Homo sapiens: one gene and its partners. The protein of the gene in region 4 interacts with the protein of the main gene of each other region in a pairwise test. Each region holds a gene or a part of one and is shown on either strand. Other genes may lie near its edges.

What was found.
Region 1: the proteins of COX20 (region 4) and GET1 interact in binary tests that used the Homo sapiens proteins (3 or more experiments, as listed by UniProt).
Region 2: the proteins of COX20 (region 4) and C1orf56 interact in binary tests that used the Homo sapiens proteins (3 or more experiments, as listed by UniProt).
Region 3: the proteins of COX20 (region 4) and FUNDC2 interact in binary tests that used the Homo sapiens proteins (3 or more experiments, as listed by UniProt).

The regions. Positions count from the first base shown.
Region 1 is NC_000021.9:39,382,707-39,390,638, forward strand, and holds part of GET1 (guided entry of tail-anchored proteins factor 1), read left to right. Parts: intron 1-5,074; exon of another isoform or gene 5,075-5,149; intron 5,150-7,932. UniProt on the Homo sapiens protein: Required for the post-translational delivery of tail-anchored (TA) proteins to the endoplasmic reticulum (ER).
Region 2 is NC_000001.11:151,043,154-151,050,927, forward strand, and holds the start of C1orf56 (protein MENT precursor), read left to right. Parts: upstream 1-4,597; 5' UTR 4,598-4,694; coding exon 4,695-5,699; intron 5,700-7,284; coding exon 7,285-7,305; 3' UTR 7,306-7,774. Other genes in the region: BNIPL (bcl-2/adenovirus E1B 19 kDa-interacting protein 2-like protein), read left to right, coding at 179-281, 443-574, 2,644-2,730, 2,914-3,012, 3,498-3,534. UniProt on the Homo sapiens protein: Involved in control of cellular proliferation. Onconcogenic modifier contributing to the tumor suppressor function of DNMT3B.
Region 3 is NC_000023.11:155,043,433-155,051,364, forward strand, and holds part of FUNDC2 (FUN14 domain-containing protein 2), read left to right. Parts: intron 1-3,076; coding exon 3,077-3,152; intron 3,153-7,932. UniProt on the Homo sapiens protein: Binds directly and specifically 1,2-Diacyl-sn-glycero-3-phospho-(1'-myo-inositol-3',4',5'-bisphosphate) (PIP3) leading to the recruitment of PIP3 to mitochondria and may play a role in the regulation of the platelet activation via AKT/GSK3B/cGMP signaling pathways.
Region 4 is NC_000001.11:244,830,420-244,839,106, forward strand, and holds the start of COX20 (cytochrome c oxidase assembly protein COX20, mitochondrial), read left to right. Parts: upstream 1-5,238; 5' UTR 5,239-5,295; coding exon 5,296-5,337; intron 5,338-6,065; coding exon of another isoform or gene 6,066-6,101; intron 6,102-8,687. UniProt on the Homo sapiens protein: Essential for the assembly of the mitochondrial respiratory chain complex IV (CIV), also known as cytochrome c oxidase.

The DNA of each region.
Region 1 (7,932 bases), on a different chromosome or scaffold from region 4:
ATGCTAAAATGTTTACAAATATCTCTTTGAGTCTCTGCTTTCAGTTTTTCTGGACATATACCCAGCAGTGGAATTCCTGAATCTATGGTAATTCTATGTTGAATTTTTTTGAAAAACCACCATACTGTTTTCCATAGCAGCCACACCATTCGACATTCTCACCAGCAGTGCAGAAGGGTTCCAGTTGCTCCATATCCTTCAACATGTATTTTGTTTTCTTATTTATTTATTCTTTTTATTTTTTTATTTATTTTTATTTTTTGAGATGGAGTCTTGCTCCGTTGCCCAGGCTGGAGTGCAGTAGCGCAGTCTCGGCTCACTGCAAGCTCCGCCTCCCGGGTTCACACCATTCTCCTGCCTCAGCCTCCCGAGTAGCTGGGACTACAGGTGCCCACCACCACCACAACCGGCTAATTTTTTTGTATTTTTAGTAGAGACGAGGTTTCACCGAATTAGCCAGGATGGTCTCGATCTCCTGACCTTGTGATCTGCCCGCCTTGGCCTCCCAAAGTGCTGGGATTACAGGCTTGTGCCACCGCGCCCAGCCTATTTTTTTTTTTATTATTTATTTTATTTTGTTTATTTATTTTTTGAGACAGAGTCTTGCTCTTGTTGCCCAGGCTGGAGTGCAATGGCGCAATCTCAGCTCACTGCAACCTCTGCCCCCCGAGTTCAAGAGATTCTCCTGCCTCAGCTTCCCAAGTAGCTGGGATTACAGGTGCCCGCCACTATGCCCGGCTAATTTTTGTATTTTTAGTAGAGACGAGGTTTCACCATGTTGGCCAGGCTGGTCTCGAACTCCTGATCTCCGGTGATCTGCCCACCTTGGCCTCCCAAAGTGCTGGGATTACAGGTGTGAGCCACTGCACCCAGCTAATTTTTATTTTTTTGAGAGGGAGTCTCTCTCTGTCACCCAGGCTGGAGTGCAGTGGCTCAATCTTGGCTCACTGCAACCTCCGCCTCCCAGGTTCAAGCAATTCTTCTGTCTCAGCCTTCCAGGTAGCTGGGATTACAGGTTTGAGCCACTGCGCCCAGCTAATTTTTATTTTTTTGAGAGGGAGTCTCTCTCTGTCACCCAGGCTGGAGTGCAGTGGCTCAATCTTGGCTCACTGCAACCTCCGCCTCCCAGGTTCAAGCAATTCTTCTGTCTCAGCCTTCCAGGTAGCTGGGATTACAGGTGCATGCCACCATGCTGGGCTAATTTTTGTATTTTTAGTAGAGACGGGGTTTTGCCATGTTGGCGAGGCTGGTCTCGAACTCCTGACCTCAGGTGATCCACCTGCCTGGGCCTCCCAAAGTACTGGGATTACAGGCGTGAGCCACCACCCCCGGCCTTTTTTTTTTTTTGTAATACTAACCATTCTAATGGACGTAAGGTGGTGTCTCATTTTAGTTTTGATTTGCATTTCCCTAATAGTGATGTTGAGTATCTTTTCAGATGCTTATGGCCATCTGTTTATCTTTGGAGACATGTCTAGTCAAATCTTTTGCCCCCTTTTAAAATCCAGTTGTTTTTTGTTGTTGAGTTCCTTTTGTTGTTGTTATTATTATTATTATTATTATTTTTTGAGACAGAGTTTTGCTCTTTTGCCGAGGCTGGAGTGCAGTGGCGCTATCTCGGCTCACTGCAACCTCTGCCTCCTGGGTTCAAGCGATTCTCCTGCCTTAGCCTCCCGAGTAGCTGGGATTACATGCATGCACCACCACACCTAGCTAATTTTTGTATTTTTTTTAGTAGAAAGAGGGTTTCACCATGTTGGCCTGGCTGGTCTCGAACTCCTGACCTAAGGTGATCCACCTGCCTCAGCCTCCCAAAGTGCGGAGATTACAGCTGTGAGCCACCACACCTGGCCGACAATTTTTTTTTTTTTTTTTAACTTTTAAGTTCAGGGATACATGTGCGGGTTTGTTATATAGGTAAACTTGTGTCATGGGTGTTTGTTGTACAGATTATTTCGTCACCCAGTTATTAAGTCTAGTATTCATTAGTTATTTTTCCTGATTGTCTCCCTCCCACCCCCTATCCTCCACCCTCCAAAATAGAAAAATTTGTTTTTAGAGGCCGGGTCTTGCTCTGTGACTCAGGACCTGTGGCCACATCCTGTGCTGCCTCATACAACCTTATGGCCTCTCTAACCTCAACCCAGTTAGCTTTCCTAAACCCATTTCCCTATGATTGTTAACACTTGTTGTTAGCCAGGTTCAGAAGGATAACATAATTATTATCCCAGCAGAGTACACCCACCCTGTAATCGGTAAGAGAGATGTTTGGCCTGGTCACTGGGTTTGTGGTGAGAGTCTGTGAAAAGCTGTAAGGAACGCGCTGGTCTTCAGTAGGGTCAAATGCTGCTCCTTCACCATCGTCAGAGGCTACTTCATCACAGCCTCTCTGATTTGAGGATTCAAGTGGGAAAGACTCATGACAAGCAGCAGAAAGTCGAATTGGGAAAACAGTGCCCTCAGGGATGGGGCCGCGCTCAGGTACTTAGATTATAACCTCCGTTGGGATGTTTCTGAAGCTTTCGTCTTAGCAGAAGTTAGGGAGGCAGCACCCCGATCTCAGCACTCAGTCTAGGCCGCACTGGTCCCCGCACTGGTCTCCCCCCTCCCCCCGCGTGAGGCCTTAGGAGGTCTGAAGTATCAGAAGTCCTTGGGCCAGTTAAGCCTAGCAAGGTCCTGGGAGGCGATCTCAGCTGTCCGCTGCGGTGGGGGTGGGATGCCTGGTAAGGACACCAAGTCCGTGGTGTTGGCGTGGTTGGAATTTTCCTGGGATCGCTCCCTTCTCTTCAAGCTGGTCACGGGGACGCATGGTTGAGAGCGCCTAGTTCATTCAGTAGGTGGTCCAGGACTTTCTTCAGCTATAGAGGGGAACAAAGACGCCTTTGGTGAGCACCGGCTCTGCAGCTCTGCGGGTGCAGGGGAGGTGTACTGCGTAGGTGCCCCAGGACTGGCGGGGGCTGAGGGTCCATGCGAACGGCACTACTACGCAGGCGTCGCAGGACTGGCCCGGGCTCAAGGTCCGTGCAAACTGCATGCACTGCGCAGGTGCTCCAGGACTCGCGCGGGGTCAAAGTCCATGCAAGCCGCACGCACTGCACAGGTGCCCCAGGACTGGCACGGGCTCAGAGTCCACGCATACCGCACACACTGCGCAGGCGCTCCAGGACTGGCGCGGGCTCAGAGTCTATGCAAACCGCATACACTGTGCAGGCGCCCTAGGACTGGCGCTGGCTCAGGGTCCCTGCGAGCTGCACGCACTGCGCAGGCGCCCCAGAGCTGGTGTGGGCTGAGTGGCCACACGAGCCACATGCACTGCGCAGGCGCCAGGAGGCCCTTCCTCTCAATCCGAGCTTTGCAGATGAAGGACTCTGCGTGTGTTGCCTTCTGGGCTTACGGGCCGAGTGCCCTTTGAGATTCAACTTTTTCTAAATTATCCTTCACTTTCTGCTGTAAAGAGTGGCCACCTCCTTTTTCCTCTAGGGGACTGAAGCGAGAGGAGGATATTGCAGGGTTTGCCTCTGTGGTCATCTTCTTAGAGAGCACCCCCTCCGCCCCCACACCCTTTTCCTCAGAGCCGTTGCTTAGTGAGTCCCTGCCATGGACCAGGCTTGGGAATGGTCCCCAAGTATTAGTTTAGGAGGACGACTCTCTGCTTCACAGGACCTACCCCAGAATCCTGTGACTCAGAAGCGCGCTTGTGAAGTGCGCATGTGCGGGCAGGGCCTCCAGTGGGGCTCTCGTGGGGGCAGCAGCCAAGGACTGGGGCTGGTGGCCTGGAGAGCTGCCCGCTTCTCCGCCCTTGCCGGTAGGGTTCCTGGCCGAGAGTGGCATCTGGGGCTGTTCAGGGTCTGGAGCTTCCTGAGTTGGAAGACCCTGTCCTCTGTGTTCAGGGACTCAGGGTGACCTGAGTTGGTGGTTCCTGGGTTTGCCTGCTCTACTGCTGGCAGGGACTAGCACGGGGTGTGCACGTTGTCATGCCATCAATTAATTCAGAGATTCACTTTTGTTCTAAAAATTAATATTTGCATTATTACATTTAGATTCATATTAAATCTTACACTGCATGATTCTAGAACATTTTAACACTTATACGTGGGTCTTGGATTAACATTGATACATATTTGCAAATTTATACTTTAAAACTTTTTTTTTTTTAGAGACAGGGTCTCACTCTGTTGCCAAGGCTGTAGTGTGGTGGTGCCATCATAACTCACAGCAGCCTCAACCTTTCGGGCTCAAGTGATCCCTCCCTCCCCGCCTCAGCCTCCTGAGTAGCTGGGGCCACACGGACCACAGGCGTGCACCACCACACCTGACTAATTTTTAATTTTTTGGTAGAGATTGGGTCTTGCTATGTTGCCCCGCCTGGTCTCGAACTCCTGGGCTCAAACGATCTTCCCGCGTCAGTCTCCGAAAGTGCTGGGATTACTGCACTGCGCCTGGCTCAGACAGTTTTTATTGTGCTTATACATGTAATAGATGTAATTATTTTTTCAAGCACCAGTTGTTTTTGTTAACCTTACAAAGCTGCCTTCAGTTTTCCTGAAGTTCACCCTTCTGCCTTCACTCACCTCCCATTCCTGAGTTGTTTTGTGTATTCCCTATAATGCTAAATAATGTCTTGGAATCTCTTTTTCTTTTTAAAATATGGTTTTAAAAGTCAGATTTATTGAAGTGTAATTTGTATAAGGCGAAATTATCAAAAAGTCCTTAGCAGTGTCTGTAGATTTTCCTTGCTTTTGAAAGATAATTTTGTGATTCATCTAAGAGAATTTGGCCCATTCCTATTTCCTTCTCCAGAGTGGATCAGGCTGGAGTATAGCTCCTTCGGTTATAGTGCTGGGTAGTGGCCAGGGCAGAGGCACCACAAAGAGAGCTGGATTTGAACCCCCTACTCCCTGCGCAAAGGCTGCCAGAAGCTGCGCTGCAGTGAACACGCTGCGCATGAGCCCCTAGACCCCTCCACCCCCCCTACTCCCCACACTCCCCCCCCCCACTTTTGCCTCATCACGCAGGCGCTGGTAGGCGGCATCACTGGGCGGGTCAGAAACCACGCGCATGCGCAGACACCCTCAGGCGACTGGCGGGTCGCGGCTTCCAAGCTCTAAATGGAGAGTTGTCCCTACTGTGCGGCAGGCGGAGGAGACCTGTAAGCTGGAAGGGGGAGGGGGGGGGATCTGATTTATTGTGTGCCAGGCACACTTTAGATACACTATAACATTTCGTCTTTATTAATCTATTTTTAAAATTTCGAAACAAACACAAATGTGCAGAAAAGTTATATACAGTCAATACCGATAACTGATTTTGTTTCCTGAACCATTTGGAAGTTGTCAACCCAAACCCCCTCATTCCGAGATACTTTGGTATTCAAAAGAATCTTGGGGGCCGGGCACAGTGGCTCACGCCTTTAATCCCAGCACTTTGGGAGGCCGAGGCTGGCGGATCGCTTGAGCTCAGGAGTTCACTGGCAACATAGTGAAACCGTGTGTCTACTAAAACTAAAAAAAAATTAGTCGAGTGTGGTGGTGCAGGCCTGTAGTCCCAGATGCTCAGGAGGCTCAGGTGGGAGTATCGCTTGAGCCCAGGAAGTCGAGGTTGCAGTGAGCCGAGATCTAATGCAGGCGTCAAGTACGTTACCACGATCTGATCCTCAGACCCCATGCAGGTTCCCCACGTTTCGCAGTAATGTCCTTAACAGGGAAAGGACCCAGTTCGGAATCATGCATTGCATTTCCCGGCCTCTAGCCTCCTGTCTGGAGGAGTTTCCCAGTCTTCCCTTGACTTTCATGGCTGTCATTTGTGGGTGTCAGAGGCCAGTGATTTCGCAGAAGGGACGCCTACTGGCATGTCTGATACTTGGTAGGGATTTCTGAGAGGCAGTGCTGTGTTCTCATTGTGTCTCATCCGCTGGTGTGGGACTGGGATTTGGGGATGTTCGCTGATCCCTTGGGGTAGGTGCCAGAGGCGCCACTGAGGGATCTGGTCTTGGGGCGCCCGCGCAGTCCTTGGACTAGGCCTTCCCGGCAGATCTGCGGGCGCCACCTGGCGGTCACTGCCGACTCCTCCGTTGCGCTCCAGTCACCTCTCCCATCCCGGTGCCGTGGCCGGGCCGTTCCCTGGAGAGTGGACGGCTGGGGCTGGTGCAGGGAACAGGGGCCTGCGGGGGCTGCGCAGGCGGGCCTCCAGGTCATGCGGGGCCCCTCTGCTCACAGGGACCAGCCAGGCCAGCCTGGGGAGCGTGCTTCTTTGTTTATGTCTGTATTTCTCTGCCTATCTGTGGAAACCACAGATCTCCAATTGAAGCCAACACCACAAGATTCATTCTGCTTCTCTCCGAGACGCCTGCCTGCCTGCCTTCCTTCCTTCCTTCCTCCCTCCCTTCCTCCCTTCTTCCCTTCCTTCCTTCACCAGGTTATGAAAGTGGCTAATTTTTCATATTTTTTGTAGAGACAGGGTTTCACCATGTTGCCAAGGCTGGTCTTGAACTCCTGGGCTCAAGCGATTCACCTGCCTTGGCCTCCCAAAGTGCTGGGATTATTGGCATGAGACACCGAACCTGGCCTTTTTTCTTTTGTCCCCCTTTTTTTTTTGAGACAAGGTCTCACCCTGTCGCCCAGGCTGGAGTCCCATGGCATGATCTCAGCTCACTGTAGCCTTGAACTCCTGTATACAAGAGATCCTCCCACCCCGGCCTCCAGAGTGTTAGGGTTGCAGGCCGAGCCACCATGCCAGGCTGAGGCATCTTTCTAAGTGTCTTTGTTGAAAGTGAGAAGACTGGCTTCCGTTACTCTCAATATGTTTATTTCTGTGATCACCCTTTTGTAATTAATCTCTGGTGTCCACCGCCCACTGTTACCCAAGTGAATGCATGCCTCTCCCCACCTGGGCTCCGACCCTGGCAGGGTTCCTTCTTGTCTTGTATGTCTGTCTCCCTCACCCTACAGACCCTGACTCCTGTGTCAGGCTGCCCTTTCTTGGGGACCCCTGTATCACCATGCCTGGCCCTGATGCCTCTTGCCAGGGTGCCATTCTGTGGGAAGGCCCTCTGCACTGAGCTTGGGCACTGACATTCTGCCCTGGGCCCCTGCCTCACCACTGTTACCCTGCACCTGCACCTTGCTCTGCCCCGTCTAATCTAGGACTGAATTCTTCTGGGAGGGGAGAGGTTACATGTTCCCTGTCACTGGAATAACAGCTCTGGTGATGGAATTGGTTTTCATTTCACAATTGCAATTTTATTTATAGTGAAACAGACAAACATTTGTATTGGAGCAAATTCATGGGCATATCTGTAAAAGGAAAAATATAGTTTGAATAGCAATTTGAATATGAGTTTTTTTTTTTTTTTTTTTTGTGGTCGTTATAGGGAGCCGAAAAAGGCAGCAGAGGCTGGCTGTGTAGGTAGAGGGCAGCTTGCCCAGTTGGCAGAGGTGGGAGTAGGATGTTGGAGGAAGGTGTACCGGTTCTGTCTGGCCAAACCCATGCTGGAGTCACCTCAAAAGCAGTGGCAGGGGAGTTCCCTCAAGGGGCTGCTCCAGACTGCCTGGAGATGGGGCTGGCTTGGATTCCAAAGAAAGAAGCACTAAACGCCAGGGTGATAAGTCCACAGCATTCATGACGGGAACTTACAAGAGCTGCGGCAGTCCCGGGACAGCCAGTGAGAGAAAGGGACATTTACCTAGGGCTGTCTGCCACCCGGGGGTTGGGGTATGGAGTGTATGTGGGAGTTTAAGGACTTTGTCATGGTGGGGCTAGTTTGTAGGTGTTTCTCAGCAGGATGAATCTCCCAGTGTTCTCCAGCAACAGCCTTTGCTCTTTATCAGTCCTGGGAACGTTCACGGCCGCAGTTTGCATTCAGTCCTGCAGGGACGCACACAACTGGCTGGGTCACAGAGTGGTCAGGGCATAGACAGAAAGTAGCGGGGGACT
Region 2 (7,774 bases), about 94 Mb from region 4:
ATGCAGGTGTTAAGAGCTATGGCTTCTTAATAAAATGCCTAAGCTGGAGACTCAGTCATTGGATCCAAAATCTATCCTGGAACTTCCAGAGACCCTCAGAGTCCCTCAACTTAAACAGATATACTATCTGTCAATACATATTTGTTGACCAAATGAATTTTCCCCTTACACTCTCCAGGTTACCACGGTGATGGCCTCAATGCTGTCATCCTTTTTGCTTCCTGTTATCTACCCAGAAGCAGCATCCCCAACTACACCTATGTCATGGAACACTTGTTTAGGTGAGGTGGAAGGCCTGAAGGGCTACAGGGCAGTGTTAGGGAGGGAAAAGTAAAAAAGAACTCCTTCAAAGATCAGTAGCTGATGGGAGAGTCTACAGTAATGTTCCTCTCACTCTCTGAAGCCCCTAACACATACCTTCCCTGCAATTTCATCCCCCCAGGTATATGGTGGGAACTCTGGAGCTGCTAGTAGCTGAAAATTACCTGCTTGTTCATTTGAGTGGAGGCACAAGCAGGGCCCAAGTTCCACCTCTAAGCTGGATACGTCAGTGTTACCGTACCCTGGATCGGCGGTGAGACCTGGGATGAGAGGGCTACAACTCTCTATCTCATCTTTTTTTCCCCATCTTTCTATTATTTCTTCTTCCATTTAGTCCTTTTCCTATTTTCTTTGTCCTTTTACGTTCCTTTCCCAGCTCTTTTGTCTTCTGTCTTCTCTTGGAGTCAAGGAAATCTAGCTTCAAATCCTGCTGTTACCACATTACTGTTTACTAGCTGTATGGCTTTGGACAAGTCACTTAACCTCTCTGGGCTTCAGCTTCAGTTTTTTTGTTTTTTTGTTTTTTTTGAGACAGGATCTGGCTGTGTCATCCAGACTGGAGTGCAGTGGCACGATCTCGGCTCACTGCCACCTCTGCCTGCCAGGCTCAAGCGATCCTCCCACCTCAGCCTCCCAAGTAGCTGGGACTACAGGCATGGGCCACCATGCCCAGCTAACTTTTGTATTTTTTGTAGAGATGGAGTTTCACCATTTTGCCCAGGCTGGTCTCAAACTCCTGAGCTCAAGTGATCTGCCTGCCTCCACCTCCCAAAATGCTGAGATTATAGGCATGAGCCACTGCACCCGGCCACTTCAGCTTCTTTATCTGTAAAATGGCAATAGTTATACTTTTGCCACTGGGTATTTGTGAAAATCGAGTAAATTAGTGTGGCATATTGCCTGGCACACAGAAAGCACTCTTCTCTCAGTCTTGCCATTTATTTCCCTTTCCACACCTCCATTATCTTCTTCTCTGCCTTCATCACTGACCTATGTGTCTTCTCTGTCACCAGGCTGCAGTGCAGTGGTAAGATCTTGGCTCGCTGCAGCCTCTCCCTCCCTGGCTCAAGCCATCCTCCCACCTCAGCCTTCCAAGTAGCTGGGAGTACAGGCATGCGCCACCACCATGCCTAGCTAATTTTTGTATTTTTGTTGTTGTTGTTAGAGACAGGGTTTTGCCATGTTTCTCAGGCCAGTCTTGAACTCCTGAGCTCAGGTGATCTGCCTGCTTTGGCCTCCCAAAGTGCTGGGATTACAGGTGTGAGCCACTGTGCCTGGCCCTGTGTCTTCTTTTCCTTCTCAGGTTTTTTTTTTTTCCCCTTTTGGTTCCCCCATCTCCATTTGCTCACATTTCTCTTCTTGCCCCCTTTCCTTTTTTCGTCCTTGCTGGTCTTCTTCCACCTAGAGTTTTATAAGTAATCTTGGTCATGGAGCGATGTAGAAGCATGCAAAAGGAACTTACGCGAGGGTAGAGCACAAGATGGAAATGGAGCAGAAAAAGACCAGGTGGTCGGGCGCGGTGGCTCACGTCTGTAATCCCAGCACTTTGGAAGGCCGAGGTGGGCGGATCACAAGGTCAGGAGTTCAAGACCAGCCTGGCCAACATGGTGACAAGTCATTATCTCTACTAAAAAAATACAAAAATTAGCTGGGCATGGTGGCATGTGCCTATAATCCCAGCTACTCGGGAGGCTGAGGCAGGAGAATCACTTGAACCCGGGAGGTGGAGGGTTGCAGTGAGCCGAGATCGAGCCACTGACTCCAGCCTGGCGACAGAGTGAGATTCCATCTCAAAAAAAAAAAAAAAAAAAAAAAATCCGGGCGCGATGGCTCACACCTGTAATCCCAGCACTTTGGGAGGCCGAGGCGGGCAGATCACGAGGTCAGGAGATCGAGACCATGGTGAAACCCCGTCTCTACTAAAAATACAAAAAATTAGCCGGGCACGGTGGCGGGCGCCTGTAGTCCCAGCTACTCAGGAGGCTGAGGCAGGAGAATGGCATGAACCCGGGAAGCAGAGCTTACAGGGAGCTGAGATAGTGCCACTACACTCCAGCCCAGGCGACAGAGTGAGACTCCGTCTCAAAAAAAAAAAAAAAAAAAAATCTTGAGAGTTTTTTTAAAAATGAGGATCATGGAGGGCTAAATAAGATGGGTGGAGCTGAGATTACAGCTGACGGAATGGGGATTAGACCCAAGTACCAGATAAATCTAGAAACTAGAGAAGTGAATGAAGGAAGTTACAGTACAGAAAACAGTTCCACGTGATCTTCACACATAAAGGTGGAAGAAGAAATAGGATGATCTCATGTTGTTTTTCAGGCTACGGAAAAACCTGCGAGCCCTGGTGGTTGTCCATGCTACATGGTATGTGAAAGCATTTCTGGCACTGCTTCGGCCCTTCATCAGGTACTAGTTCTAGGAACAAGGACTCCTTTCTCCTTCCCCCCATTTTCAAAATCAAGATTAAGATCTTTCTCCACCTTGATTCTTTCTAGCCTTAACCACTCTACTTCTACATTTTTCTTTGCAAGGATTTTTGGGAACCCTTCTCCCAATACAAAACACAGTTGATTTATTCTCTCTTTTCAGTTCCAAATTCACACGAAAAATCCGTTTTCTGGACAGCCTGGGGGAGCTGGCCCAACTCATATCCCTGGATCAAGTCCACATCCCTGAAGCTGTCAGACAGTGAGTTTCACACTTAAGAATAAAGCCTTGGGGTGGGATGTGTAAAGCCAATCTCTACTTTTTTAATGCCTTGGGGGACATACAAAAGAACGAAAAGCTAGAGGGCCCTGTTTTCGGGTGCTTTAATGTATATGGGGAAACTGCACACACCCAGAGAAGAAATGAAGGACACTACTGCATCCAACAAGAATAAATGAAAAAAAAAAAAAACCTATACATATAAGTGCAGAGGCAATAAGGAATAAAGGAATAATCACAGTGCAGAGGAGATTCAGACTGGCCCTAGAAATTAGGAAGAGATGTGTTGGCAGTGAACAGATGATATCCAGTGGGGGAGAGGGTGTTAGGGAGCAAAAGTGCTAAATGATGACTCAACCCAATCATCTAGCTCTTCCAATTCACCTGGCTTCTCTCCCCAAACCAGAAAATAAAACCCAAGTCCTACCCCCTGAACCACTTCTCTCCTCCCCCTCTCCCTCTCCTAGGCTGGACCGGGATCTCCATGGCTCAGGAGGGACATAGCACAGGACTGGATAAAAGGCCTTAGAACCAGTTAGTGATCTGCCTACACCTGAATCCCTGAAACATCTGAACTGTTTTGTAAATCATCTTATCCCCAACCTCAGTACCACCGGATCTTCACTTCTCAGTGGGATTTTGTCCTTTGCATGACCCTACTTTCAGCAGGGCTTTGAGGCTGGGAAACTGATCTGCTGGGTGACTTTCATTCCAGTTGCTGGGACGGAAGGCTGAATGTAGGGTCATTTTGTATGGGATATGCAGAGCTCTGGGTTTTTTTGTTTTTTGTTTTTTGAGACGGAGTCTCGCTCTGTCGCCAGGCTGGAGTGCAGTGGTGCGATCTCGGCTCACTGCAACCTCCGCCTCCCGGTTCAAGCCATTCTTCTGCCTCAGCCTCAGCGAGTAGCTGAGACTACCGGCGCACGCCACCACGCCCAGCTAATTGTTTTGTATTTTTAGTAGAGACGGGGTTTCACCATGTTGGCCAGGATGGTCTCGATCTCTTGACCTCGTGATCTGCCCGCCTCGGCCTCCCAAAGTGCCGAGATTACAGGTGTGAGCCACCGCGCTCGGCCAGAGCTCTGGGTTTTAATCCTACTTTAGCTGTAGAACCTTGGGCAAATAACTTCATCTTTTTGGGTCCTAATTTTCCTCCTGTCTAACTGGAGGGACTGTGATCCTTCCACCTTGGATGGAAGAGGCTTACCTGACAGCCAGCCTGCCTGCTGGGAGCCAGGAGAGTCAGCTCATTAAATCTTGAAGAACCGCTGTATGCCCTTTTTCCTTCTAAGTCATGTCTGCTGCCTGTGAGCCTGGGAAGGAGTGCTTTCAAAACCTGTATTTTTGCCCTCTTTAGTAAATTTAGAACTGTAGAGGCTAATAAACTGCGATGAGACATTTAAGCTCTGCTCCAAAGAAGTGAACGACTCTTTCACCACCCCTTGCATCCCAAACCTTCGGTTCTGGCAGAGTTCTTGCCGCAGAGGTTCCTTAGGAGCACCCCGCGCGGCCCGCGCGAGCGCGCCTGCGCGTCGAACCCCACCCCCTTCCCCGCGGGCCTCGGTTCAAACGACCCGGTGGGTCTACAGCGGAAGGGAGGGAGCGAAGGTAGGAGGCAGGGCTTGCCTCACTGGCCACCCTCCCAACCCCAAGAGCCCAGCCCCATGGTCCCCGCCGCCGGCGCGCTGCTGTGGGTCCTGCTGCTGAATCTGGGTCCCCGGGCGGCGGGGGCCCAAGGCCTGACCCAGACTCCGACCGAAATGCAGCGGGTCAGTTTACGCTTTGGGGGCCCCATGACCCGCAGCTACCGGAGCACCGCCCGGACTGGTCTTCCCCGGAAGACAAGGATAATCCTAGAGGACGAGAATGATGCCATGGCCGACGCCGACCGCCTGGCTGGACCAGCGGCTGCCGAGCTCTTGGCCGCCACGGTGTCCACCGGCTTTAGCCGGTCGTCCGCCATTAACGAGGAGGATGGGTCTTCAGAAGAGGGGGTTGTGATTAATGCCGGAAAGGATAGCACCAGCAGAGAGCTTCCCAGTGCGACTCCCAATACAGCGGGGAGTTCCAGCACGAGGTTTATAGCCAATAGTCAGGAGCCTGAAATCAGGCTGACTTCAAGCCTGCCGCGCTCCCCCGGGAGGTCTACTGAGGACCTGCCAGGCTCGCAGGCCACCCTGAGCCAGTGGTCCACACCTGGGTCTACCCCGAGCCGGTGGCCGTCACCCTCACCCACAGCCATGCCATCTCCTGAGGATCTGCGGCTGGTGCTGATGCCCTGGGGCCCGTGGCACTGCCACTGCAAGTCGGGCACCATGAGCCGGAGCCGGTCTGGGAAGCTGCACGGCCTTTCCGGGCGCCTTCGAGTTGGGGCGCTGAGCCAGCTCCGCACGGAGCACAAGCCTTGCACCTATCAACAATGTCCCTGCAACCGACTTCGGGAAGAGTGCCCCCTGGACACAAGTCTCTGTACTGACACCAACTGTGCCTCTCAGAGCACCACCAGTACCAGGACCACCACTACCCCCTTCCCCACCATCCACCTCAGAAGCAGTCCCAGCCTGCCACCCGCCAGCCCCTGCCCAGCCCTGGCTTTTTGGAAACGGGTCAGGATTGGCCTGGAGGATATTTGGAATAGCCTCTCTTCAGTGTTCACAGAGATGCAACCAGTAAGTGTTTGGTGATGAGCCAGGGTCTTTGTTGACGGATCTGAAAAGTCCTGGTATCTAAAACCCAGTTGCTAAGCCAGCCAGTGTTGCTTACATGAACTGTTACTGACTTACCTGGTTATTGATTCATAACATGCATTGGTTATTCACATTGTTAGCCATTGATTCCACCTATTATTTATTGAGCAACTACTGGTTGGTCATTAGGTAAAATGTCTTACTGCTCATTAGGTGATTATTGACCAAATAGTTAAGATTGGAAATATTTTTTTTTTTCAAGACAAGAGTTTCACTCTTATTGCCGAGGCTGGAGTGCAATGGCGTGATCCTGGCTCACTGCAACCTCTGCCTCCCAGGTTCAAACAATTCTCCTGCCTCAGCCTCTTGAGTAGCTGGGATTACAGGCACCCACCACCATGCCCGGCTAATTTTTTTTTTTTTTTTAGAAGAGACAGCATTTTACCATGTTGGCCAGGCTGGTCTAGAACTCCTGACCTCAAGTGATCCACCCGCCTCGGCCTCCCAAAGTGCTGGGATTATAGGCATGAGCCACCATGCCTGGTCTTGGAAATTCTCTGTTTTTTTCACAGACAAGATCTCGCTATGTTGCCCAGGCTGGTCTTAAACTCCTGGGCTCAAGCAATTCTCCTGCCTCAGCCTTCCAAAGTGCTGGGATTACAGGCATGAGCTACTGTGCCCCTGACCATAAGACTTTTTTTTCGAGACAGGGTCTCTCATCACTCAGGCTGGAGTGTGGTGGCGCAGTCACAACTCACTGCACCCTCCATCTTCTGGGCTCAAGCAATCCTCCCACCTTAGCCTGCTGAATAGCTGGGACTACAGACGTGCACCACCATGCCTGGCTAACAAGATCTCGCTATGTTGCCCAGGCTGGTCTCCAACTCCTGAGCTCAAGGATCTGCCCACCTTGGCCTTCCAGAATTCTGGGATTACAGACATGAGCCACTGTGCCCGGCCCATAAAGTCTTTTTGATGCACAGATAATTAACAGATATGAAGGATCTTAATCAATTAATAGTTTTGACCTAATACAGCTTAACAGCAACAAGTGCCAAAATTTGAGGTCTTACTATGTGCACTTTACCTGAATCGATCCTCACATCCTATGAGGTATTATTATCCCTGCTTTTCAGATGAAGAAACTGAGGTTTACAAAGCTAGTAAGTGGCAGAGCCACGAGATTTAAACCAGGTTTGACACCAGTGCCCACTCTCTTCACCACTACCATTTGGGAGTACTGTCCTTCCAGGACAAGGAAGGATAGTCCTCTGCTTTTCCCAGAATTAGCAAAGGTTCTGATTGACTTGATAAGGTAGTCTCAATTGATACGGATGATAGGACTTTGAGGAGGGAAAGGTAATAAAGCTTACACTTGGTCATTTTGCTTGTTTCTGTTTTTCTCCTTGTGTGTCCAATACCATTATTGCATACAAAAATAAGTAAGGGGTGGGCAGTAGGGTTGAGGGAATATGGGTTTGTGGGAGGGGGAGATGAAGCAAGGAAGGGAAAAGAATATAGATGTGGTTGTAATTTCCCTTTTTCTCTATTTTTTTTTCTTACGCAGATAGACAGAAACCAGAGGTAATGGCCACTTCATCCACATGAGGAGATGTCAGTATCTCAACCTCTCTTGCCCTTTCAATCCTAGCACCCACTAGATATTTTTAGTACAGAAAAACAAAACTGGAAAACACATTGTTTGGTCTTGTGTTTCTTTACAGAGGTACCTGAGGGAGGAGAGACATAAATCCCTTCATCCCTAAGACTGAACTATGTAACTAGCAGCCTCTGGCTTGTTTTCTACTCCCTGTCCCTCAGGATAAAATGTTGATATTGCTCATTTTCCTCATTTCCAACATTGTTTTAAAACAAGTACTTCTTTTACAGGCTTGAAAAATCTCAAATAAACGCTAAGAAAAGGGAGTAGGAAGAACAAGGAGTTGAGCCCTTGAAAGATGACAGTGGTCTTCTTGCCTTCATGCTTGGCCCTCTCTCCTCAAAAGGGCAATGTTGGTACAAAATTCCATCTCAGCCACTTTCGAGGAGTTATCTTC
Region 3 (7,932 bases), on a different chromosome or scaffold from region 4:
GCCTGGTAGTTTTTAATTAGATGGCAGATATTATGAATTTTACTTCATTGGGTGCTAGATATTTTTTATTCTTATAAATGTGCTTGATTCTTGTTCTTGGATGCAGTTACTTAGAAATCACTTGATCTTTTTGGGTCTTGCTTTGTTATTAGGCTTTATTTAAAATGTGTGTTTTGTTTTAAAAAGAGAAAAAGCCAGGTGTTGTAAACAGTGCAACAATTTTTGTAACAGCAAAAATCTGTAACCATTCTAAATATGTCAGTTACTCTGATTATACTTTAGTAAGTCTGAACAGTGGAATGCTCTTAAAATGGACCCTTATCATTTATTTACTGGTCCTACCACCCTTCCAATTTCAGAGTCGCTTCAGAAATATACTGCCTGACATCTAACTTTTGTTTAAAAAAGATTAAAAGTCTTATGAGGTTCTCCATGCATTGTTGTATTTGTAATTCTTTCTCTTACTGAGCTGAAATGTAATAAGGGGAGAACAGTAGACAATGAGGGTAGTGAGGTAATGGGAGACAAGATGTTAAGTGTAAGGCTTTAACTTTCTCTCTTAGTGAGGAGGGAAGCTACTGGAAGGTTATGAGCAGAAGTGTACCTTGATCTTACATTTTAGAGCAGGGGTCAGCAAAGTTTTTCTGTAAAGAGCCCATATGGTAAATATTGTAGGCTTTATGGATCACACAATCTCTGTTGCAACTTGATTTACAAAGAGACATCTGGCAGGATTTGGCTCCCAGGCTGCGGTTTGTCGACCCCTGTTTTAGGACTGTATGAGCTGCTATATTGAGAATAGATTCTAGGGGGTGAAAGTGGAGGTAAGAAGTCCAGATGAGGAGCTGTAACAGTAACCTACATCAGAGATCATGGTATAGACCCAGCAGATAGAAAGTGAATACACAGAGCAAAGAGGTTCTAGGACTGAGCCTCAGAACAACCTAACATTCAGAAGTCAGAAAGAGGAGGACTCAGCAAAATTGTCTGATAAGGAATGGCCAGTGATATATGAGGAAAACCAAGAGAGAATGGTATTCCAGAGCAAAAAGATGTCAAGAAGGAGAGAGTACAATAGCAGAACAACAAATAACCTGATTTAAAAAATGGGGAAAAGACGTGAACAGACATTTCCCCAAAGAAGGCATAGAAATGGCCACCAGAGGTATATGAAAAGATGCTTAGCATCATCAATTATCAGGGAAATGCAAATTAAAAGCACAATGAGATATCAACTGGCACTTGTTAGAATGGCTGTTATCAAAAAGACAAGAGATAATTGTTGATGAGGGTGTGGAGAAAAAGGAACCCTAGTACACTGTTGGCGGGAATGTAGATTGTTACAACCATTATGGAAAACAGTATGGAGGTTCCTAAAGAAATTAAAATTAGAACTACCATGCGACCCAGCAATTCCTCTTCTGAGTATATACCCCAAGGAAATGAAATCACCACCTCATAAAGATATCTGCCCTCTCATGTTCAGTGCAGCATTAATTTATAGTAGCCAAGATATGGAAACATCCTAAGTGTCCATCAATGGATGAATGGATAGAGAAAATGTGTCTACAATGGGATACTATTTAGCCTTAAAAAAGGAGATTGTGCTGTTTGCCATAGCATAGATTTTGGAGGACATTATGCTAAGTGAAGTAAGCCAGACATAGAAAGACAAAATACTGCATGATCTCATATGTGTGGGGAAAAAGTCATATATACAGTTGTATAATATAATAAATATAAAGAAATAAAACTGGTTACCAGGGATAGGATGGGAGGAAATGGGAAGATGTGGGTCAAAGGATACAAAGTAGCAAATATGTAAGAGGAGCAAGTCGAGAGATCCAATGTACAGCATGAGGACTGCAGCTAATGCAATTGTATTGCCTTAGGGATTTCTGTGAATTAAGTGGATTTTAGCTGCTCTTATCACAAAAAAGTAACTATGTGAGATGATAGATATATTAATCTGATTCATTATAGTAACCACTTTACTTGTCTATATGTATCCCATAACATCATGTTGTAAACCTCAAATATACACAATAAAATACCTTTTTTAAAAAAAGGAGAGAGTAATCAACTGTGTCAAAAGCTGCTGTAGGTCAGATGAGATTAAAGCTGAGAAGTGAACACTAGCATTTGGTAAGGTCAAGATCAGTGGTAACCTTGATAGGAATGGTTTCATTGAAGTCATGGGACAAAAGCCTGAATGGTGTAGGTGTGAGAGAATATGGACACAGGACAAAAGAGACGGCCTCAAAGTAGTTTTGCTGTAAAGGAGAGCACAGAAAAGGGAAGGGGGCTGGAGAATTGGAGTCTAGGGAGGATTTTTTCAACAATGGTTAATGATTACAGCTGATAGGTGTTCAGCAATGAAACAACAAAATCTCTGCCTTCATGAAGCTTACATTTTAGTATCGGGTGGGGGCAGGAAGATAGACAGTAATAAAGAAACACATAATTATATTAAACTGGCTACAAGATGTTGCCACTCAGATATCATATGGACATTTTGCATTCAACATATTCAAAATGACATTATCTCCTCCCCTCCCTTCCCCCACCTTTTCCTCTATTCCTCTTCCTTGTTTTTATATTGTAAAAAATGCCACATTCAGGACAGAATCTTGTGCCTTATCCCTTGCAACCATCCTGTCCTCAAACTCAGGAGTGTTTTTTTTTTTCTTCACAAACAGTTCCTCAGGTCTGCTCCCTCCTTGCCATCTCTACCTCGGCCCATTGGCATTCACTTCTCTTCTGGATCGCTACCTCACCGTCTTAACTAGAGTCTCTGCCTTCGTCCTCCCCCTTTAATCTCTTCTCCACAATGTAGCCAGAGTCATCTTTTAAAAATATAACCTGAGAGTTTTAAGGGACTTACTCAAGACCACAAGATTCATAGAGCCAAGATTTGATTTCCTTATGTCATGCTCCTCTTGGGGCTGGCTTTATGTAGGGGGTAGGAAGGAGCTAGGTCATCTTAAGCTAAGTAAGATATGAACATTGCCAGAAATGCATGTTTGTATGTAACTGACAGCTCATCAATTTGTCTGATGTTGGTTTGTTTTTGTAGGTGCACAGGTTTCATATTCCAGAAGGTTGGAAAGTTGGCTGCAACAGCTGTGGGAGGTGGATTTTTTCTCCTTCAGGTCTGTATGTGAAATGTTCTCAGATGTTTGGAAATTCCACCTGCCCATTAAGGAATGTGGTGTGGGGAGTTGTAATACAGTCCTGGCTATGTCACACTAGACTAGCCTTAGCACTTGTTTTCATGTACTATTTTAAATGCTAGTGACCGTTTGAGTCAAATTTTATTCATTATACTAGTAAATGTTATTTGCCAGTCCCATTTTATTTCCTCATGTGGCGACAGAAGTGCAAATTCCTTATCATAGCTCCCTTAAAAGAGTTTTTAAGACCAGCTGAATTATTAAGCGGATGTGATTTCAAAAATACAAGTGTGCTGTGATGATTTAGTGTCATATGCTAATATTATAGCTAGCTTTCACAGAGGGGATGTTGAGCATGTGATGAGAAATGGGAGCTAAGTGACAGTACAGTCAGATGTCGTCTGCTGTCTCCTTGACCCATAGTTTCAGAACCAGTGGTTGCCAGTTCTCTGAGACTGCTTAGGAGAGACTAACAAGCAAGACTTGAAAAAGGGAGCAGTTTCTCCAAAAACAAAAGAAAACTGACATTTGATTGTATTAGGCATACATTTCTTAGCTCTGTGGCATTGGTATTCAAATTTGGCTCCACATTGGAATCACCTAGGAGTTTTTAAAAGAGCCAACGTGTGCCACTCCTGACCCACAGTCTGATTTCATTGGAAAACTTAAAACTCCTGAGGTGATTCTGCTGTGCTGTGGGAGCCATAACTTGCTGAATCATGCCAGAGTCTCTGAATTCACAGCCGTTTGTCTCTTCCCACAGTTGGCAACCCTCACTTTTGCAAGGTAAGTTCTGCATTAGCACCATGATTGGAGTGAGTTTTGCAGATAGGTCAGGTGAAAATCAAATGTATCGAAGAGGGAAGCTGGTAACTGGCTGTAGCTGGGTTGAGTGTGGTATTGCTGCATGACAAATTCCCCCAAACCTAATGGCTTCAAATAATGATCACTTTATTCTCTCTCATGGTTACAGGAGTTTGGGGAGGGTTAAGGTAGGTGCTTGTGGATCAGAGTCTCATGTGGTTACAGGCCAGATGATCAGAGGGTTAGGGTAGGTCTGGACTTGTGGGGCCTCTTTGTGTCTCTGTCTCTGTTTGTCTTCCCTCCTCCTCTCCTTATTTCCCCCCTGTCCATAGTCTCAGTGCTCTTCCATGTGGTCCCTGTGCCAGTATAGGCTTCCTCACACTACCATGACCTCAGGACTCCCAAGCACAGTTCTGCAGAAACATGGTGCAAGTTGCATCTCCTTTGTTGCCCAAGCCTCACTTTTGTTGGCTGCTTCCCTGTGGGCTTGTTACGTGCTGGCTCTGTTGCTAGACAGGTCAGACTCCCTGCAAGGTGGGGCCCCTCCTCACACCTCTCTCTCCTTCCCCTTGACCCTTCAGGTGGAAGTGCAGTAACATCTCTATCCCTGTGGTTTCCCTTATATGCTGCCCCAAACTTCATAAACATTTTAATATTGCTTTGAAATGTCTTAATTTGAGTGTGTCCTCTGTTTCGTTTTGGGGCCCTGACAGAAATAATTGGTATTGAAAATGTCTCCAGAAAGGCACCTCAAAATGAGATTTTGGGGTTGGATAATTCCAATATTCAAGGGGTACAGGGACACTGCTTTGCTGCAGAGGTGAGACATGGAGAATCTGTGGCAGGCACTCATGTTATCTGTCACCAGGGGAGTGAGAGCAGGAGGCAAGCATAATGTTGGGAGATCAGTTATATCACAAGTTATAGTTTGACATAGGGATCCAGTTTCCTTTTTTCCATACTGATAATTGAGCAGAATTTAGTGAATAATTCTTCCCTTTCCCAACATTTGCAGCATTGTCTCTTTCATATATCAGAACCCATGTATGTGTGGCTGTGACTCTGGTTTCTGTGTTCTGTTCCACTGGTCAACTTTCGATCTTTATGACAGTACTAAAGCTTAATATTTGGTAATGCAAATTCCTCCACCTTATTCTTCAGGAGTGTTGCAGCTACTTTTGTGTTTCTGCTCATTCATCTAAATTTTAGATCAGACTTGTCAGTTATTTTCAAAAATCCTGTTGAAATTTTTATCGGAATTGCATTGGAACCATGTAGATATCTCTTATGATATTGAGTATTCTATCTGTGAACACGGGCTTTCTCTCCAATTATTTAGGTCTTCTTTAATGCCTTTGAATAGACTTTTTATTATTTTTCCGTATAGATCTTGTACATCTGTGATTCAGTTTTATTCCTGGATACCTTATAACTTTAGTTGCTCTTGTGGATGATACGATTTTTAAAACTACACATTCTGATTCATGCTAGTGTGTTGAAATACAGTTGATATTTTATGTTGCTCTTTCAGCCAGCCACCTTGTTAAAAAAGTCTTGTCTGGGATTCTTTTGGGTTTTGTCTATAAAATCTTTTTATGCCATCTGTGAACAGTGAAATTTTTCCTTCACGTCTTTATGAATGTAGTTGCTTTTTCTTACCAAGCTGTAGATCATTTCCAGCACTTTTTGCAGCTTTCAGAGCCCAGCAGCAACGCTTGCCAGTTTTCAGTTTATTCGGCTCCCTCTACTTGTTGTGCTGCAATGGAAGTAGGATGTTGAGCTTTGTCAGTAGAGGGCGCTGGAGGGACCTTGCAGCGGGAGAGGCTGCTTTTCCCAGTTCTGGTGTTGCTTTGCCCCTGCAGTGCAGTCCCCCAGTAATGCCAAGGAGAGCAGGAAGTCACCTCGCAATCCTGGCCTGGGCCACCCAGGGGACTTCACCACCACCATTACTACTTTTGCCCCCTTGTGAAAAATCAGTTTGTTGTAGTTGTCCACGTCCGTTTCTGTACTTTTTATTCTGTTCTGTTGGTCTGTGTGTCTATCTCTTCTTCAGTATGACACACTGTCTTGACTACTGTAGCATTATAGTAAATCTTAAATCAGGTAGTGTGATTTCCCCAACTCTGTTCTTTTTCAGATTCATTTTGGTGATTCCAGTTCCTTTGCCTTTCCATATAAATCTTAGAACCGGCTTATTTATGTATCTATAAGAAATCCTACTGGGATTTGTGATTTGGGATTGCAGTAAATCTATGGATAATTTGGAGAGAACTGGGCATCATTTCTGTGTTGAGTATTCCATTCCATGTACATGATGTGTCTCTCCATTTATTTAGGTTGTCTTTGAGTTCTTTCTTCAGCATTTTGTAGTTCTCAGTATACAGATCCTGTATGTTTTATTTGATTTGTACCTAATATTTAATTATTTTTTGCACCCATTGTTGTAAATCATTTAAACATTTTTCATTTCCAGTTCAAATTGCTAGCATATAGAAATTCAGTTGGTTTTGTGTGAATTTGTGTCCTGTGACCCTGCTAAACTCACTTTTTTAGTCTAGGAGTTTTTGTTTTTTGTTGAAGTCTATGAAATTTTCTATGTAGACAAAGATGTCTATGATTGGAGACAGTTTGACCTCTTCCTTGTGAATCAGGATGCCTCCTAATTCTTTTTCTTGCCTTGTTGTGCTGACTCTGAATTCACTTCTGGTACGATATTTAATAGGAGTGGAGACGGCGGACAGCTTTGCCTTGTTCCCTGCATTCGTTCTTTCACCATTCTGTACAGTGTTAGCTGCAGGGTTTTTTATGTAGATGTTCTTTATCAAGTTGAGGAAGTTCCCCTCTATTGCTCTTTCTCTGAGAGTTTTATCATGAATTTGCGTTGAATTTTGTCAGATGTTTCTTGAGTCCTGCCTTGAGGTTAGGCCAGGCGATACTGCAGGAAAAGCAGGAAACACGCCACCAGTTTGGTGGTGCTTTGAATTCTGGTCTTCTCCAATCTGCACGTCGCTGTTTTTATGTAAGAGCCTTCAAATAGCTAGTCCATGTATTCTCTCAGTTTAATAGCAGGATTTTGTGGGATAAACAGGGTGGAGTAAATGAACCAGAGCCTTCTTTTAGATACAAATGTTGATACTCAACTATGTGGTTGCTGTAAGTAATTTGTTCTTTTTAGTACTAAGTAATATTCTATTGTGTAAATATGATACAATTTGTTTATCCATTCATGTGTTGATAGACTTTTGTGTATTTCCAGTTATAGACTCATAAATAAAGGTACTATGGCTTGATTACTTGTGAAGTTGAACTTTTTCCTTTTTGTGGACACTTTCCTCTGAATTGCCCTTACCCATTTTTAAAGTGAACTTTCTTACTGATCTCTATAAGAAGTTCACTTTTTTGAGTATCAATGTTTTGTTTATGATACACATCACAAGTATTTTCTCTAGTCTGTTTGGGTGACTGGTGGTGCCATTAGCTAAAATAGGGCCTAGAGGAAGAGCAACAATGCAGGAGGAGACTCTAGCAAGGTGAAGACTTTTAGTTTCAGATATTTTGAGATTGCCAAAAATTTGGTAGAGAGAAGTGATATTGATAGGGCATTGATTGATTGGCTACAGTCATTCTCTTCATTCCTAGGATGATATTAATCCATCATCAAAATCTACATGCTTGAATCAGATTTACACTGAGTTTTAGTGTTTGTGCCTGCTGTTTTTATCAAGGGAAATAGGTATATGCTGTAGGTGTCTTTGGATGTGGTTCTCTTAATATCCGTTTATATGAACTTGCTCATGAGAAATCTCTGTGGGGCCAGATGCTAGATTTCTTCCTGTTAAGCAACAGTAATAACTGCCTGAATGCTTTGCTCTGTTCACATTGTCAGGAAACTGACACTCATGGGCACATTGTCAGAGTCATTCTCTGGAAACATTTGTATTGGCTGTAAGGTCCA
Region 4 (8,687 bases):
ATGAACAACAAAAGCATATCCAATCATATTCACTTGTGAAATAAAAGCTGAAATTATACAAAATTTAGGAAAGATTAACAGGAACATTACCTCTATGACAATCTGATATAATGAACAATAAAATGATTCTCAGAGGGAATTTTATAGTCATAACGACATTCATTAGAAACCAAAAAAGACGGAGAAAAAGTGAATGAAGTAGTCAATTCAAAAAGCTAAAAAAAGACAATAGAATAGATCAGGTAAATTTTTTAAAATGTAAAATAGAAAATGAAATAAAAAATAGTAAAACCAAAAGTTGGTCTTTTTAGAAGAAAAAATATTCAAAATTATGAATGAGAAAGGGAGTATAGAATTATTTTCAAAATCATGAAAGTATGTTTTCATTATGAGTCAAGAATGCCTACTTAGGCAAGACACAAGATCAAGCACCATAAAAGGAAATATTGACATATTTGACTCTGCAAGAAAAAAAGAGTTAAAACGTTTGAGAAATAAAAGACCCCATAAACAAAAACAACAAATAAGTGAACATGCAGAAAATATTCGTTACATATATAAGGACTAAAAACTATGCTTGTAAAGAGCTACTTTAACACGAAAATCACATACACAACCAATTTTATTTATTTATTTTGAGACAGAGTCTCACTTTGTCGCCCAGGCTGGAGTGTAATGGCACAGTCGACTTACTGCAACCTCCGCCTCCTGGGTTCAAGCAATTCTCCTGCCTCAGCCTCCCGAGTAGCTGGGACTGCAGGTGCACACTACCATACCTGGCTGATTTTTGTATTTTTAGTAGAGACGGGGTTTCGCCATGTTGGCCAGGCTGGTCTCAAACTCCTGACCTCATGTGATCTGCCCACGTTGGCTTCCCAAAGTGCTGTCCCCAAATTTTTAAACACACAAAAGCTATACAAAGTTAATTCTTAGAGAAAGAACGGTCAATAAACATTTGGAAGAATGCTCAACCACAGTAGCAATCAGGAAAAGTTTAAAGCAATAAGATACCATTTCCGCCCCCATGAGATTCAGCTTAGAGACAGGGTCTTGCTCTGTCGCCCAAGCTGGAGTGCAGTGGCACAATCATAGCTCACTGCATCCTCAAGCTCCTGGACTCAAGCAATGCTTCCTCCTGCCTCAGCTACCCCCAAAACTCCCCAAAAGCTGGGATTACAGGCACATGCCACTGAGCCCAGCTAATTTTGTTTTTTTTTTTGGTTTTTTTTTTTGTTTTTTTTTTGTTTTTTGTTTTTTGTTTTTTTTTGACAGAGATGGGTGTTGGGAGGAGTCTCGTTTGTTGCCCAGGCTGGTCTCGAACTCCTGGCCTGAAGAGATCCTCTTGCTTTGGCCTCTCAAATTGTAAGGGGATCGCAGGCCTGAGCCATCACGCCCACCCTCCCCCAAATTAAAAAATGTGAACATATGCAGTGTTGAAAAGGTGAGGAAACAGGTAACTCTCCCATACAGTTGGTGGGGAATGTAGATTGATAGTATTTTTGGAGGACAAATTAGCAGTATGTATTACATTTTAAATTGTGTATACCCCTTTAAATCAGTTATTCCACTTCCAGATATTTACCCTACAGAAATACTTGAACATGTACACAGATATATATGTATGCATAAAGATGCTGATTGAAGCATTTTTGGGGATTAGTAAAAAATGGAAACTTTCAGAAATGTCAATCAGAGGCCGGGCGCGGTGGCTCACGCCTGTAATCCCAGCAGTTTGGGAGGCCGAGGTGGGCGGCTCACGAGGTCAAGAGATCGAGACCTTCCTGGCCAACATGGTGAAACGCCGTCTCCATTAAAAATATAAAAATTAGCTGGGCGTGGTGGCGGGCGCCTGTAGTCCCAGCTACTCAGGAGGCTGAGGCAGGAGAATCGCTTGAACCCGGGAGGCGGAGGCTGCAGTGAGCCGAGATCACGCCACTGCACTCCAGCCTGGGCGACAGAGCGAGACGCTGTCTCAAAAAAAAAAAAAAAAAAAAAAAAAGAAATGTCAATCAGAAAGAAAAGAAAGGATTACTAAGCAGTCATTAAAATGAATGAGTAAATCTGTAGTACATAAATCAAACAAGTTCCCAGATATATGGCAAAAAGTAAATTACTGAATGCAAATGATGTGGTACAGTGTCATTTCAGCGTGTATCACATACAGATACATGTATACATAAGCGTGGAGGCAAGTGTGACATAGAGCCTTTCATTATTTACCCCATATATTCCAGTGTTGTTTTAATTAAGACAAAATATAGGTATTCGTGGGATAATTTTTTTTTGTTTTTGAGACGAAGTTTCGCTCTTGCTGCCCAGGCTGGAGTGCAATGGCACGATCTCGGCTCACCACAACCTCCACCTCTTGGGTTCAAGCGATTCTCCTGCCTCAGCCTCCCAAGATGGGATTACAGGTGTGTGCCACCATGCCCAGCTAATTTTTGTATTTTTAGTAGAGACAGGGTTTTGCCATGCTGGCCAGGCTGGTCTTGAACTCCTGACCTCAGCTGATCCACCCACCTCGGCCTCCCAAAGTGCTAGGATTACCGGCATGAGCCACCGTGCCCGGCCTCGTGTAATAATATTTAATTAAGAAAAAGCCGGGTGCCATAGCTCATGTCTGTAATCCCAGCACTTTGGGAGGGTGAGACAGGAGGATCACTTTAGTCCAGGAGTTTGAGACCAGCCTGGGCAACAAAGTGACACACCATCCCCCACCTCCCGTCTCTACAAATAATTGTTTTTAAGAAGGATAAAGAAGAGTTTGAAAAGAGAGACATCAAACTGTTAGTTATATTTACCTTAAAAAGGAGAGAAAGAACTGAGATTTTTACTTTCCTTTCTATAACTGTTAAACAATTAAAAATGGAAATATTATATGCAATTTTGTGAAAATAAAAATTTTAAAATAGGCCAGGCGCAGTGGCTCACGCCTGTAATCCCAGCACTCTGGAAACCAGAGGCAGGCGTATCACCTGAGGTCAGGAGTTTGAGGCCAGCCTGGCCAACATAGTGAAACCCTTTCTCTACTAAAAATACAAAAATTAGCCGGGTGTGGTGGCAGGCGCCTGTAATCCCAGCTGCTACTCAGGAAGCTGAGGCAGGAGAATCACTTGAACCCGGGAGGCAGAGGTTGCAGTGAGCTGAGATTGCGCCACTGCACTCCAGCCTGAGCGACAAAGTGAGACTCTGTCTCAAAAAAAATAAAAAATAAAAAATAAATCATCCTTATGAAAATACTTTTCAAAGACAAATGAAATAGACCCCAACAATGTCTACTCTAGCAAATTTTCAAAGTCATAATAAAAATAAAATAGGATGACTCGGTGGTGTTTTAGCTGGTACTTTTCCAGTTTTCCTTTTACAACATAATCAACAATGACTTCAAAAGGATTTCCCCCTCCTTCATGGAATATTACTACCTTCAACACGGCCTTTCAGATCCGGAGTTCAAAGCATAGTTAGCATTATAATTTCAGCAGAGAATCCAGAATTGGCAGGATATCACCAGTAGGGTGACTTTTTTTCTTTTCCCTAGCAAACAGTAGAGCAGTATGTAGTTTCTCCCCCCGCCCAGACGGAGTTTCGCTCTTTCTCCCAGGCTGGAGTACAGTGGCACGATCTCGGCTCCCTGCAACCTCCGCCTTCCGTTTTCAAGCTATTCTCCTTCCTCAGGCTGCCGAGTAGCTGGGATTACAGGCGCCCCCCACCACGCCAGGCTAATTTTTGTATTTTTAGTAGAGGCGAGGTTTCACCAAGTTGACCAGGCTGGTCCCGAACTCCTGACCTCGTGATCCGCCCGCCTCAGCCCCCAAAGTGTTGGGATTACAGGCGTGAGCCTCCGCGCCCGGCACAGTATGTAGTTTCTAACTACAATTTCAAAAACAAAAACAAAAAAACCCCCCCCGCCCCCGCAAAAAAAAACCTCAAAAAAAAAAATGTGACACATAAATACACAACCTTAACTGTGTATTTTACTGGGATTGTAGAAAGGTATCAAATGGGCATGCAAGTAAGGTCCTTACGGAGTAAGAAAACGCCCAATGAACAGTACTTAATATGAATTCGACATCGTTAACACTGAGCGCTTGCTGTGTGCCAGCGCGCAGCATAATTCGAAGCAGCATGACTTTGCACAATGACATATTCTACAAGTCCAGTTTCCTAAGGAGTGCCCTTAGGTTACATATAACCTAAACGTGAAATGTAGAAGTACATAAAGGAGGCATAAAGTTAAAGGGGAAAAATTATAAATACTAGAAAAAATTGCATTGTATTATTTTGATGGCTGAAAAATGGGCTCGACCCTGCATGCACGCGTTCTCCATTGAGCTCGACAATATGCAGTATTTTGTTTCACGTTATGTCGCAGTCTTAGGGAGGAGTGAAACGTGGAACACGACTTCACATCAAAAATGCACGTTGCAGAGGCATTTTTCCTTCGGGGACGCCGGAAGACTTCGCCACACGCGCGCCCTCTCCGCGGACACCAACGTGCTGACGCATGTTCATTAGCGAGCTGCTCCCTCCATTTTGTCCCCAGTCTCCTTTAGGCGAACTGCGCGGTTCTATGTTAAAGCCACTTAGTAATGAAACTATAAAAGGGAGGAAGTGGGGTGGGCGTGGGAGCCCCGTTTGCGCAAGGCAGGCGCGGGGGACTAAATGGCTGCTGGTGCAGAGTGGGGCTGCCCCGGCACCAAGGGCTCGTCCCGTGGCCGGAAGGACAAAGGACACTTAGGGGACGAGGGCCGCCGAGCCAGCGCGGAGCGCCTTCCGGGTCGGTGGGCTGGGGCGGGCTGGGGGCTGGGGCCGGGCCGACCCCCGCGGTGGGGCCCACCCCGCAGGACAAAGCAGCGGCCCCGCCCCTCGGCGCGCGCCCGAGGCTCGTGCGTGTGAGCACGCGCGCCGGAGACGGTTAGAAATGGCGGTTGGGGCGGAGCAGGGGGCTGGCGCGGGAAGCGGGGCTGTCTGGCTCGGTTACGCCCCCACCTCGCCAGGAATCTAGGAGTCGGTTTGTTTTCCGAACCCATCTCCTTCCGCTCTCCCGCCCCTGCAGGCTGTGTGCCGAGCTTGGAAGAAAGTGTGACCCGTTCGACGGAACAAAGGACATGACAGCCCGGCCCCGTGCGGCCACTGCGGAGCGTTAGGAACATTCCCTAAAATGGCGGCCGGCGCGTCGGAACAGGGCGGGAGGCGGCGGCGCGTGGGGGCGGGACGGGGAGGGGCGCGGCCAGCCGGGCTTCTGCTTCCGCGACCCCGGCGGTGCAGGGCGGGTGGAGTCGCGGAGTAGTCCTCATGGCCGCCCCGCCGGAGCCCGGTGAGCCCGAGGAGAGGAAGGTAACCTGGGGGTCGGCGGGGCGCGCGCCGCGGGTGGGCGGTGGGTAAGGACGTTCTCCGCGGAGCTCCTAGGCCCGGAGCACGTGTCACTGGCTTCTCTGCCACCCATGGGCTTGAAACTATTTTAACTGTTCCTAGTCCTTATCCCAAGCCTCCAACATTTTAATCTAAGTGGCCGGGACAAAATTGACCAAAACTAGGGGGAGGAGGGGACCAGTAGTACTAATGACTTACTACAGGTCATTATGAAATAAGCTAACAATACTGAATCTTTGGCGAGAAAATTTTGCTGCTAAGGGCACTGCACTGTAATTTGTTAGTAAAGGCTAATAGTAGAGATTAAAGCTCCGTTGAGGACAGGTGCCTTGTCTTTAACACGTTGTATTCATCACATTTAACATAGGAGTAATTGCTGAGGGATGACTTGATTGTACTACGATGAGATGAAGGGTTAAGATTTCTTCCCCATCACCAGTAGCCTCCCTAGCTGGTGTCCCTGTCTCCATACTCTCCTGAATCCACCTTCCACTATTGTCCGCTGGCCCTTTCCAGCCTGTAAACTGGACAGTTTTCATTCCTCTGCCTAACATCCAGTCGTAGCAGCCCATCCTATCTCTTTAAGGATAAAACCCAAATTCTTGGTATAGTAAAGCTAAACCAAGCGCTCTCCCTGGAAGGGCTCCTGTGTTTCACCAAAGCTGACTTACGTACTTTCCCCATCTTCCCAGGCATCTTGTACGTCGTTACATTTATCATATTGGAAGGTAATAAATGATCTTGTTTTCCTCTTTTCCTGGGCTCCTTATTAAGAGCAGGGAACCTAATTTATATCCTCAGGGCAGAACAGGTATTCAGAAAAGAATAATGCAAGAGGAAAAAAGTTTAATATAAACTAGGGAGATCGTAACATTGGCTAATCACGAGCAAATATTTATAGAAGACCCACTGTGTGCTAAATGGCTCCTAATATATACTTAAGATATTCTCCCAGCTTGGAAATTCTGCTCACTTCTTGCTCTTGCTTGCTTCTCTGGTGGGCTTCCATCCAAATTTGGCCATGACATCAGATCATATGGTTAATATTAACAAATATTGTATAAATTGTTTTCATACTTAATATCCAACAGGTTGTCAGTTTACGTACTACTGGTGCCTTATCTGTTTTTACTGTCCCATACACTGCCCATCTGGAATAAGCTTAGTGTTTAAAAAAAAAAAAAGATCTTTGCATACACACAGTAAATCCTAGATTCAGTTTTGTGATAAACACTGGAATCCTGAATGGGACTTTTGGTAGGAGATAACTGCTGTTTTTAAAGGTCATAAAGGTGGTTTAATCCATTGGAAATTAAAAAAAAAAAACTTAAAAGAGGATCAACATTGACCTATTTAACTGGCCCATCAGTAAGTAGCAAAACAATACTGTAGTTGTTGAAATGAAGATAGTTATAAGCCTCAAACCGAGCACAGTCAGAGGTGGGAGGCCAAAAAAACAAAAATTGCTCATGAAACAGTAGTACCTATCAGAGCCCATCAAAAAGCTAATTAAATTAATAGAAGCTATGATGAATTAACAGCCCAAGGTGCTGTCAGAAAGGAAGCCTGCGGTTATTTTTTTTAAAAGAATTTGTCAGTGATCATTCCAGCACAACCCAGGGAGGATTATTTTATTATAAGAATTAGCAAACCTAAAGTAAAAATGGGAGTTACCAAGCTGGCATACCTTGATAGAACTAGCCCCTAAAAACTGTCCTCTGCCACATTCTTGTCCTTTAAGAAACTTTAAAATGTGAAATTTGGTACATACAGGTAAATTCACATTCAGGTAAATTCTTAATTCACCCATTCAAAAAATATTTAGAGTACCTACTGAGTATTAGACACTGAACGAGGTACTAGACTGATCAAGACAGGAAAAATCCCTTTAAGGAGCTGACATTCTACTGGAGGAATCAATAAGCAAGACTTCTACTGAGCCAGTCATGCAAAGATCCAGGAGAAAGGCAGCATGTGTTCGTTCGGTAATAACCATCTCGGCTTGTTAGAATGGCAAGGCCACTGTACCTGGACTAGTGGACAAGAGTAGGATATGAAAGAGCATGGGATCATGTAGGGCCTTTGGAGCAATGGTAAGGATTCTGAGCATAATCGGAGGCTACAGAGGACTTATTATAGTCATCTGATACACATTTTTATGAGTAGAATCAAGATCTGAAAGGTACTGTTGATAGATGGTAATTTGATAGGACAGGTTGAGCTTCCCAATTCAAAAAAAAAATTGTCTTTTGATGTATCAGTTTCAGATTTGGGATGCTCAACCTGTATTAGCAATGAAGTTGGTGGGCAGTGGTCTGGCTCAGGATGTATTTAGAATGTGGATCCTTCCAGACTTGCTAATATATTTGATGTGGATTTGATGAAGGAATCAAGGATGACTCTTAGTTTTTGGGTCTGAAAATTGGTTGAGTAGTGTGCCATTAAGAGGAAGGTTTGGAGGTGAAAATATATTTTGCAAATACGAGGTTCAAGGTGCTTTTTATACATAAAAGTGTCATTCATTAAGCAGATGAATGAGGCTGAAGCTTGGGAGAGATTAGGGTTTGATTTAGAAATCTGGAGTCATCATATAATGGCATTTAATTGAAAGCCTTGGGATACCTAGGAAGAGACTAGATTCCAAAGGAGTTAAGAGTGGCACTTCAGAATCAGGTCTGTAGAGGAGGGAACAGCAACAAAAATGTCAATGAAATAGAAAACCAGGAGACGTATTTGAAGCCAAGTAAAAGTAAAAAAGTTTCAAAAACAAATGATAATTTGTGCCACATATGCTGAGATGCGGATTTAGACTGCAGTGGATGTCTTTTAGAGGTCTTGACTGGTGTCAAGTGAAGTTCAGTGGATAGATGCCTCACTCAAGTGAGTTAAAGGGAGAATGGGAGGTTTTAAGTAGAAAAGCACACCTACACTCAGAAGTTTTGCCCCAAAAGGATGGTGGTTTAGGTGGCTGATGAGAGGAGAGGGGTGTATAGAGGATTTTTGGGTTTTTTTTTTGAGATGGAGTCTTCTTGCTCTGTTGCCCAGGCTGGAGTGCAGTGGTGCCATCTTGGCTCACTGCAACCTCCGCCTCCTGGGCTCAAGCGATTCTGCCTCAGCCTCCCGAGTAGCTGGGATTACAGGCATGTGCTACCATTCCTGGCTAATTTTTGTACTTTTAGTAGAGACAGGGTTTTGCCATGTTGGCCAGGCTGGTCTCGAACTTCCGACCTCAAGTGATCCACCCACTTTGGCCTCCCAAAGTGCTGGGATGACGGGTGAGCCACTGCACCTGGCCAAGAGGGCTGATAGTAAAT